3 linked regions of the Homo sapiens genome follow. The protein of the gene in region 2 purifies or fractionates together with the protein of the main gene of each other region. This does not show direct contact. Each region holds a gene or a part of one and is shown on either strand. Other genes may lie near its edges. The genes, in order: PON2, SLC39A11 and FAM174A.

The links.
Region 1: the proteins of SLC39A11 (region 2) and PON2 purify together in Homo sapiens (affinity purification with mass spectrometry; 4 studies listed by BioGRID and IntAct, with this or other methods). This does not show direct contact.
Region 3: the proteins of SLC39A11 (region 2) and FAM174A purify together in Homo sapiens (co-immunoprecipitation; 4 studies listed by BioGRID and IntAct, with this or other methods). This does not show direct contact.

The regions. Positions count from the first base shown.
Region 1 is NC_000007.14:95,428,409-95,432,161, reverse strand, and holds part of PON2 (serum paraoxonase/arylesterase 2), read left to right. Parts: intron 1-3,753. UniProt on the Homo sapiens protein: Capable of hydrolyzing lactones and a number of aromatic carboxylic acid esters. Has antioxidant activity. Is not associated with high density lipoprotein.
Region 2 is NC_000017.11:73,085,990-73,089,742, reverse strand, and holds part of SLC39A11 (zinc transporter ZIP11), read left to right. Parts: exon of another isoform or gene 1-29; intron 30-967; 5' UTR 968-978; coding exon 979-1,086; intron 1,087-3,753. UniProt on the Homo sapiens protein: Zinc importer that regulates cytosolic zinc concentrations either via zinc influx from the extracellular compartment or efflux from intracellular organelles such as Golgi apparatus. May transport copper ions as well.
Region 3 is NC_000005.10:100,559,247-100,562,999, forward strand, and holds part of FAM174A (membrane protein FAM174A precursor), read left to right. Parts: intron 1-2,807; coding exon 2,808-2,942; intron 2,943-3,753.

The sequences.
Region 1 (3,753 bases), on a different chromosome or scaffold from region 2:
GTAGGATTATACACATGAGCCACCACCCTCGGCCTACTTTACAATTTGATGCACCTTTTCTTTACGTGACTGTGATGCACTTTAATGGGCAGTGACTTTATAAAATGGTAACTTTATTGGATATGTGGAGCCCCAAATGGGCTGACGTGAGAATGTTGGGGTAGGTGGTGGGTGGCTGGATTTAGCAAAGAAAAATGTAGGCTACCCAGTTAACTTTGAATTTCACATGGATTTTTTTTTTTTTTTTTAGTATAAGCATGAAATACTTATACCATACTTTTAGCATTAAGCGTGGAATTTGGGACATAATTATACTAAAATATCATTCATTGTTTATCTCAAATTAAAATATCACTGGGTACCCTGTATTTTATCATATGTTCGAGTGCCTTCTGTCAGAATTTGGTGACCCTTTGAGTCTGTTTTAAAAAGGAGCATGTTTGGCCGGACACAGTGGCTCACGTCTGTAATCCCAGCACTTTGGGAGGCTGAGGCGGGCAGATCACTAGAGGTCAGGGGTTCAAGACCAGCCTGGCCAACATGGTGAAACCCCGTCTCTAATAAAAATACAAAAATTAGCCAGGTGTGGTGGTGCATCCCTGTAATCCCAGCTACTTGGGAGGCTGAGTCAGGAGAATTGCTTGAACCCCAGAGGTAGAGGTTGCAGTGAGCCAAGATTGAGCCACTGGACTCCAGCCTGGACAACAGAGAAAGACTCCCTCAAAAAAAAAAGAAAAAAAGCATGTTCCCACCTCCCCATAAGGAAAGGCTCTTCAGAGGAAGTTGAAGGAACAGAGGCTTTATGTTTGATTTTTGCTTTAATCTGATGCCTACTGTTTGATTATTCAATATTTAGAGATGGTACTTTGGCAATCAAGTTATTTCTCTCCCCAGGTTGCCCACTTCAATTTTTAGTATAAGGATGTCCCAGAGGGATAAATGCCATCAAAGTTGTCTTTCTTCTTCTGAACTGTAACTGGGATTCCACACCCTCCTTTTCCACCCCTCCCTAGTTGAGCAATAAAGGGGAAAATAACAGTATACAAATATTCCCAGGCCAGTTCCTGGTGTCAAGGTACACAGCCATGGATGAATCATGAGGCTTGAGTGCATCAGAGACCTAAGCGTGGGCAGGAACCCCCAGAGTACCCATGTGAATGTTCTGCTTGCTGCCTCGCACCTTTTATGACAATTCCCACAAGAAGCTATGTGGTCTGTTTCTACTTCTGAAAGAGCAGCCTTTTTCCCTTTTTTTTTTTTTTAAACCACCATCCTTTAAATCATTTATTATGTAACTCTTGTGTGCTGGTCAGTCAGTGTGTCAAAAGTGTAAAAACTTCTTTATTTATTTTTTTAATCTATCTTTTAAAAAATATTTTCTTTCTTTTTTTCTTTTTTCTTCAAGGCAGGTTCTTGCTCTGTCACCCAGGCTGGAGTGCAGCAGCACAATCATAGCTCATTGTAACCCAGAACACCTGGGCTCAAGCAATCCTCCCACCTCAGCCTCCTAAGCAGTGAGGACTATAGGCATGCACCACTACACCTGGCTAATTAAAAAAACATGGCCGGGCACGGTGGCTCATTACTATAATCCCAGCACTTTGGGAGGCTGAGGCGGGTGGATACCTGAGGTCGGGAGTTCAAGACCAGCCTGACCAACATGGTGAAACCCCATCTCTACTAAAAATACAAAATTAGCCAGGCACGGTGGCACATGCCTGTAATCCCAGCTACTCAGGAGGCTGAGGCAGGAGAATCACTTGAACCCGGGAGGCGGAGGTTGCAGTGAGCCATTGCACTCCAGCCTGGCAACAGAGCGAGACTCTGTCTCAAAAAAAAAAAAACAAAAAAATTTTTTTGTAGAGATGGGGGTCTTGCTGTGTTGCCCAGGCTGATCTCAAACTTCTAGCCATAAGTGATCCTACCGCATCAACTTCCCAAAGCACTGGGATTATGGGTATGAGCTACTGAGCCCTGCCAAATTTCTTTATATTAAACCAAAACGTACATTTACTGATATTTGGAAAGAAAGCTCTTTTACTTTTATGCCTTCATCCAGTCTTCATAGATATCTTCCCTTTTACATTATAACTGTAAATACTGAGGTTAGAGAGGTTAACTAGTTAGTTCAACAGAATAATATAAATATTGAATAATATAATTAATGAATAATTAGTGCTGAACCTGTCGCCTCAGCCAGGTCTCCTGATTCCAAATACAGTTTGCCCCAGCTCCCCACAGTCTTCTAGCTTCTCTGCCAGTGGAGCAAATTTTCCCTAGGTTTACAGGCCTAAGCACAGATTCTTAGTTACTTAGTGCAAGTATTGCCAGAGCCCAAGGGGTGAATTCCAAAGGGTTTTTACAAGGCTATACATAAAAGATAAAGCCCTGGCTTGTATATCACTTGCACATAGGAGATAAAGCCCCAGCAGTTGTATGTAAATTTCAAAAGCAGAGAAGTATGGCACAAAGAAACTCCTGATAGTAACACTGTGTTCCCACTTTGCTTAGGGGCATATTGGCACCGTAGCATGGTACACCCTTACTGCTACCTGCCATGAGGCCAGATAATAGCTAGCAGCCCCTGGTCTCATTCTACTCTGGATGGGTACTGCTGTTTCCTGAATGAAAGACACTGAGATTGATTTCATGCTAATGACTGTTGGTTAAGAGTTCATGCTTTCTATTCACAATAGCAAAGACTTGGAACCAACCCAAATGTCCGTCAATGATAGACTGGATTAAGAAAACGTGGCACATATACACCATGGAATACTATGCAGCCATAAAAAAGGATGAGTTCATGTCCTTTGTAGGGACATGGATGAAGCTGGAAACCGTCATTCTTAGCAAACTATTGGAAGGACAGAAAACCAAACACCACATGTTCTCACTTATAGGTGGGAATTGAACAATGAGAACACTTGGATACAGGAAGGGGAACATCACACACCGGGGCCTCTTGTGGGGTAGGGGGAGGGGGGAGGGATAGCATTAGGAGATATACCTAATGTAAATGACGAGTTAATGGGTGCAGCAGACCAACATGGCACATGTATACATATGTAACAAACCTGCACGTTGTGCACATGTACCCTAGAACTTAAAGTATAAAAAAAAAAAAAAGTTCATGCTTTGTGGACAGGTAGCCTGAGTTCATTCATAGCTCTACTATTTACCTGAAACCTTGGACTAATTATTTCACTTTTCTGTGCCCCAGTGTTGTAATCTGTAGGATGGGGTACTGCCTGCTCCACAGTGGGACTATGAGAATGCTTAAAATAATGCCAAGCGCACAGTCAGCTCAATAAATGTCATCTATGTAGACAATGAAATTCAAGCATAATTCCTTAAACCTTTGTGCCATACATCCCTTTGGCAGTCTGGTAAAGCCTTCATTCCTTCTCAGCATCATGTTTTTAAATGAGTAAAATAAAATATATAGGATTACACAGGAAACCAATTAAATACTGCTACCAAGCTATTTAAAAATCTATGATATAATATGCTTTTTAAATTAAACCCTTAAATGGATCTAGAGGTAGGTAAATGTCTAACAGCAGATATTTTGAAGTTGCAATGAATGTAAATGGCACTTTGAGCTATCTACAACTGAAATGCGATAGAAAAGTATCTATAATTTCTATTAGTGACAGTCACAAATACTACTAATAGTATTGTGGTTTGTTGCTTATACTCATCATCAAAGGAAATACTCAATTTGAGTTAAAGGTTTAAATAAAGATGTATTTT
Region 2 (3,753 bases):
TGCTTGTCCTTGCTGACTGTCCTGTGCAGGTAAGCTGGCCCTTTTCCATCCAGCACATATTTTTCAGGGGTTACAAAGCCCTATTTTACAGGGGTGCCAAATGTGAAAAAGCACCGTCCCCGTCCTCAAGCAACTAAGGCTGTAAAAGATGGAGGCAAAGCCACACTGAGAGAGGACCAAAGCTGCATGCTAGGACAGGGCTGGGGAAGGCCAGAAAAGCCTTGGTCGTGAGGTTGGCATTATGTGGGCTGCAGAGGGTGCTCCGGGTTCTGATGGCTGGAAATGTGCAAGGAAGGTATTCCAGGAGGGAACTGCATGAACAGGGACTTGGAGGCAGGATTGTCTGGGGCTTGTGGAAGGTGCCATAAATAATTCAGTTGAGCTGGAGTTGGGTGCTCGTGCAGGCATGATGGAGAACGGGATTGGAGAGTCGGGGGTTGGTGGGTATCAAAAGTTGGTTGGTGGAGTTTACCCTTTGGCTGGGCAGGTGCGCTGTTGCAGATGTGATGGGGATTAAGATTGGAAGCGTGTTGACATCACCTGAGCTAGTCACCTGTCTTTGGTGGAGGCTGAGTGCGGATGGTGGGCAAGAGACGGTAGAAGAGGCAGATTATGTGGGGGAGGCTGCATCAGACCCTCCTATGCCCCCTTCTTCTGGAATAAACCACATTCTTTGTGCTTCTCTTTGAAACCACTTTTCAATGTTGCAGCCTTTTTTGTGGATTCCCCTGGCATCTCCCTGTGCCTTCTTTCAGATTAAGACGATTTCCAGTTCCTGGGGGACCTGGATAGAGAAGCCTGACCTGTGTGCTGGGTGGCTGAGGGACACAGATGGCGTGGTGGAAGGGTGCATACGGTCAACCTGGAGGGAGGCCAGCTCCCACACAGGGTGTTAGGACCCGTCAGAATATGCGCCTGTCACTGAAACGGACCACCGGTGGCTGACCCTCTCGCTCCTCTTGCACAGCTGTATCCAGCATGCTCCAAGGCCACAGCTCTGTGTTCCAGGCCTTGCTGGGGACCTTCTTCACCTGGGGGATGACAGCAGCTGGGGCAGCTCTCGTGTTCGTATTCTCTAGTGGACAGGTGAGTTGCCTTGCTTTGGTTCTGGATGTTGGTGGGGAGCCCGTTGGTAAAGGGGCACTGTCCCACTCCATGGAGCAGGTTTGTAGACTTTTCAGTGCCCCTGGCCACACCCCCAGGCATTGTGTACTGGGGTTTGTTCGCTGTCTTCTTATTTTCTCACCTTCTCCCTGCCAGGCCGGGAGAACAGATGTCTGCTTGCTGTAGACACCTTCATGCACCATCATCTCCCCTCTTGACCCTTGACAGCCTGACTTGAAGGGAATAGGAAGTGAGAAGCCCAGTTATTGAGGCTTCGTTAGCCCGCTGCCTAATTTCTACCTGCCATGTAATTTCTTTTCTTTTTTCTTTTTTCTTTTTTTTTTTGAGACAGAATCTTGCTCTGTTGCCCAGCCTGGCGTGCAGTGGCAGGATCTCAGCTCTCTGCAACCTCCACCTCCCGGGTTCAAGTGATTCTCCTGCCTCAGCCTCCAGAGTAGCTGGGATTACAGGCATGTGCCACCACGCCTGGCTAATTTTTGTATTTTTAGTAGAGGTGGGATTTCACCACTGGTCTCAAACTCCTGACCTCAGATGATCCACCCACCTCGGCCTCCCACAGTGCTGGGATTGCAGGTGTGAGCCACCGTGCCTGGCCTGCCATGTAATTTCTTTCAGGCCTGGAGCAAGTGGTACTATGCGTGACCGAAGAACATTAGATTTCAGGTGTAACTGTCCTCCCCTGTGGACTTGAGTTGGGTGGGATGGTTGGAAAGACCTTGGGAGAAGAAGGGGCATCTGTTCCCTTTTTTTTCAACCCATCTCCAGGTTGTTTCCTTTCCCCTTGGGATGAATATAGACAGACCCATGTCCCTGGCCCCCTGCAAACTCTTACTTCTTTCTCCTACATCTTCCTTGTATCCTACTCCCAGTGCCCTCACTCACTGTCATGGCCCCACAGCCTATCTCTCCCTCCTCCCACAACCCCATCCTTACACCCCTTCTACACGCTCTACCTATAGTCCCACATACCCACACTTGCACACATACCCATACCCATATGCCCTCCCCACACCTCTGCACAACCCACACTCACCTCATATACCTGAAATTGCATTCTTTTCTCCAACCCAGATCACCCTCAGTCCGCAGCCCTGGAGCCATCCATGGGTATCTTGATGAATGCACAATCCCTGCATCGATCACCTCGGTAGCCTGAGACATTGTAGAAACGGCAAATGAATAAGTGACTTAAGATCTAGTTCAACATGTTGTGAGGGAGATCTGGAAATGAAAACACCTTTAGGAAGTTCACAAGTCAGGCACTCTTGTGTTAGAGACCAGTACAGCAGGCCTTGATTTCAACAATAAAATCCCGACCTCCCTTGCTGCGCTGCACTGCCCCCGGGAGCTGATGGGTTGGAGACTGGAAATCAGAAAACACACAATCCAGAAACATGGTTTATCTGGAACCTAGGTATATAAGATGCCAAGATAAGTCAAATTCACAGAGACACATTGTAGAATGGTGATTGCCAGGGGCCACAGAGGAGGGCAGAAATAAGTTATTCTTGAATGAGTACAGAGTTTCAGGGTTTTTTGTTTTTGTTTGTTTTTTTTTTCTTTAGACAGAGTCTTGCTCTGTCACCCAGGCTGGAGTGCAGTGGCGTGATCTTGGTTCACTGCAACCTCTGCTTCCCAGGTTCAAAAGGTTCTTCTGCCTCAGCCTCCCGAGTAGCTGGGATTACATGCATACACCACCACGCTCAGCTAATTTTTTTTGTAGTTTTAGTAGAGACGGGGTTTCGCTGGTAACCCCATCCGGCCAGGCTGTTTTATTTATTTATTTTTTATTTTTTTTGAGCTAGAGTCTTGCCCTGTCACCCAGGCTGGGGTTCAGTGGCATGATCTCAGCTCACTGCAACCTCCACCTCCTGGGTTCAAGTGATCGTCCCACCTCAGCCTCCCAAGTAGCTGAGACTACGGGTGTGCACCACCATGCCCAGCTAATTTTTGTATTTGTAGTGGAGATGGGGTTTCACTATGTTGCTCAGGCAGGTTTTGAGCTCCTGACCTCAAGTGATCTGCCTGCCTCGGCCTCCCAGACTGCTGGGATTACAGGTGTGCACCATCATGCCCAGCTGAGTTTTAATTTTGTAAGGTGAAAAGTTCTGTAGACCACATGGCTTCTTTCACTTCAAAGAATGTCCATAGAGCTCATCCACGTTATAACATGTGCCAGAATTTCTTTTGTTTTTAAGGCTGAAGACTATTCCATTGTATGTACATACCACATTTTGTTTATCCATTCATCTATGGATAGATAGCAAAAAAAAAAAAATCTGTATTGAAATAGAAGATGCTTATGGAAAAATGCACATTTTATTAGGCTGGTGCATTTTATTAGGTTTGCACCAACCTAATATAAGTATGCAGCTTGATAACTTTCCACAAGTGCTCATGAAACTAGAGCCCAGATCAAGAAACAAAACAGTACCAGCTCCTCACCTCACAGCCCCTTCCAATCAGGAGCCTTCAGTCTCCCTTCCAATCTCACCATCCCCAACCTTTACTCCAAGGGTCATCTCCCATGTGATCTCTAACAGCACGGATATTTTCCCTGTTTCTGTGCTTTATTTAGATGGAGTAATCATATAGTACGTACTGTTCTGCATCTGGCTGATTTTACCC
Region 3 (3,753 bases), on a different chromosome or scaffold from region 2:
AGAATGTTGAATATTGGCCCCCACTATCTTCTGGCTTGTAGAGTTTCTGCCAAGAGATCAGCTGTTAGTCTGATGGGCTTCCCTTTGTGGGTAACCCGACCGTTTTCTCTGGCTGTGCTTAACATTTTTTCCTTCATTTCAACTTTGGTGAATCTGGCAGTTATGTGTCTTGGAGTTGCTCTTCTCGAGGAGTATCTTTGTGGCGTTCTCTGTATTTCCTGAATTTGAATGTTGGCCTGCCTTGCTAGAACTTCCCTATCCAGGGAAGTTCTCCTGGATAATATCCTGCAGAGTATTTTCCAACTTGGTTCCATCCTCCCCATCACTTTCAGGTACACCAATCAGACGTAGAGTTGGTCTTTTCACATAGTCCCATATTTCTTGGAGGCTTTGTTCGTTTCTTTTTATTCTTTTTTCTCTAAAATTCTCTTGTCACTTCATGTCATTCATTTGATCTTCCATCACTGATACCCTTTCTTCCAGTTGTTCGCATTGGCTACTGAGGCTTGTGCATTCGTCATGTAGTTCTCTTGCCATGGTTTTCAGCTTCATCAGGTCCTTTAAGGACTTCTTTGCATTGGTTATTCTAGTTAGCCATTTGTCTAATTTTTTTTCAAGGTTTTTAACTTCTTTGCCATGGGTTCGAACTTCCTCCTTTAGCTCGGAGTAGTTTGATCGTCTGAAGCCTTCTTCTCTCAACTCGTCAAAGTCATTCTCCTTCCAGCTTTGTTCCGTTGCTGGTGAGGAGCTGCGTTCCTTTGGAGGAGGAGAGGCACTCTGATTTTTAGAGTTTCCAGTTTTTCTGCTCTGTTTTTTCCCCATCTTTGTGGTTTTATCTACCTTTGGTCTTTGATGATGGTGACGTACAGATGGGGTTTTGGTGTGGATGTCCTTTCTGTTTGTTAGCTTTCTTTCTAACAGTCAGGACCCTCAGCTGCAGGTCTATTGGAGTTTGCTGGAGGTCCACTCCAGACCCTGTTTGCCTGGGTTTTTTATAGAGAAAGTTTAGACCTCTGGTCTACATGGTGTGTGTGGGTGTGTTTGCACACATACACACACATATACATGTTAATGTAACAACCTAAACATACTTAATTTCTCACTGTGAAAGAAAGAGTACTTTGTATTTCATACTGCTTCATTTTTGCTAGTACTAATATTTACTGACCCTTTCATTGGTTACATTTGTAACTTTAAATGCTATGCTTAACTCTCTGTTTCCTGTTCCATCACTTTAGACGTGTATATAGATAGCTCTATAGGTAATGACTGGTGGAAATTTTCTTTGTTTGTACTCACACTTAGTAACATTTTGTAAATTTTAACACTGAGACCAGGCACTTTACACCCAGGTGCTAATATCATACCTGATGCTTAATAAGACTCAATTATTTGTTGAAGGTATGTTTGTTTTCCAGGAGCTTCACTGTCATGTTTGAGGAGTCTCATGTTGCTCTTTACAGTTGATGTTATAGCCCAAGTATTTCTTATCCCACATATGTCAAACAGAGTAAATCAGAATTTATGTAAACTGATTTTATTTGTGATAACTTGCTGAAATATTTTCTATTTATTTTCAAACTCCAGTGGACACTCTTGTGAAACACATTTTGCTGTCTGTGGAGTTGAAGTTGTTGCATTGGAGATGACTTAGGCATTCCTTGCAGGGTCACAGTTTTGGTCGCCAAAGTAGAAGTCACTCAGACCCTCAACAATTAATTGAAGAACATCTTAATTGATACATCACTGTGCTAGGAAGTGGTTATGTAGTGGTGAATAAAGCAGTCTTGGTTGCTGCCCTCAGAGAACTTAGTGGGAGAGACAGATGAATAAACCCCACATAAACATATACATCAGCACATAGGAATGCAAATTAAGGTAAATGATTTGAAGGAAAAGAACAAGTTATTTGAGACACAAACTGGAAGTAGGACTCTAAATCTTGAGATTTCATTCATATGGCTAATAATGAATGTTAAGCACCCTTGAATCTTTTGAATTTCTCTAAGCCAGTGGTTCTCAAACTTGAATATGCATCAAAAGCATAAGAAATGTTTGTTAAAAGACAGGTTTCTGGGCCCCATCTTCAAAGTTTGTTATTCACTAGGTCTGGGCTAGCCATGAAGATTTGCATTTCTCGTAACTTCCTAGGTGACTGTGATTCTGCTGATCCAGAGAACCACACTGCAAGAACCACTGATCTCAGATAATGGTTTATATCACATTGGAATCACATTTAGAACCTCAACAAAATATTCATATTTAGTTCTTTTTTGCTGTACATTTTGATTCAGTTATGTCCTAAACATGGGACTTTAAAAAATACTCCCAGGTAATTCTAGTGTGCAGCTAGAGTTGTGGGCTATCAGTTTAGTCTGTGAATATGCATATACATACAGTTTCTTAGAGGGGCATCTAAACAGTGGTAAGAAAGCGGGGAGGACATGGGGAAAAGGCTGGAGCAGGAGGTTTCAGTAAAGAAGTACCTGACCTAAGCCTTTAAAAATTAAGGTTTAAAGTACGGTACCTGAATTTAAGGCTTAAAAGTTATTTGTCAACACCATCAGTTGACACAGAGAGAAGAGAGTATGTCAGACAGAAGAAACAGGCGATGGCACATAAACATGTAGGAGTAGGTTTTGTTTCATGAAGTTTAATCCTAGGTGGTAAATTTGTTGCATATCTGAAATGTAACCATTCTGATATTGTTTGCTATGTCAGAAACAGAATAATAATTTATTTTATAAATAAATATAAACTATGCCATATTAAATAATTTTTATTCATTAATTTGTTCTATTTGATAGGATGAGAAGAAGAAACCGAAAGACTAGGAGATATGGAGTTTTGGACACTAACATAGAAAATATGGAATTGACACCTTTAGAACAGGATGATGAGGATGATGACAACACGTTGTTTGATGCCAATCATCCTCGAAGGTAAGTATTCCAGTAGTTTAATTCCATGAATCAGGAAGCAAGTCCTTGCCAAGTAAACTGAAGAAGTAAAGTAGACTTTCATTTAACAGCTTATATTCCAACACAGTTTCTTCAGTTCTGTTTACTGAAGTTCTTTTTGCTATCTACCCCATAGCTCACATTCACGTTGTTTTGCTCAAATAGATACAAACAATAGAATACCATCTCAAAATATTTTTTTTAATTTATTCTTCTGTTTTTATCTTTTATTTTAAGTTCAGGGGTACAAGTGCAGGGTCGTTACATAGGTAAACTTGTGTCATGTGGTTTTGTCGTACAGATTATTTCATCACCCAGTTATTAAGCCTAGGACCCATTAACTTCTTCATTCTTGCAATATGTATTAACTTGGGTGTGTGTGTGCATGTGTGTTTGTGTGCGTGTGTGTTTGTGTGTGTGTGTGTGAGAGAGAAATACTTATTAAATTTAATTTCCTTTTTGTATTCTGAAGATATTTTCTTTTTAGTTTGGGTTCTAGTGTTTGTAAATAGTGCTGCCTTGCAGAATTGGGGGACTAATTGTTTATGGTCTGATCATGTAGCTGTAATATATATACTGAGATCTATTCTCAGTAAGTGTTAAGACCTTTCCTAAGAGGTTTAGATAAATAAAATGACATGAGTATAGAATAAATGCCAATGTAAATAGAATGGGGAAAAAAGCCAACAAAGATTCAACCTAATAAGGAAAGACATCTTGGAATCCAGAGGGATTACTTGGGTGAAGGAGAATTAGAGTCCAGAGTCAGGTACAAATGCAAAGAAAACAGAAA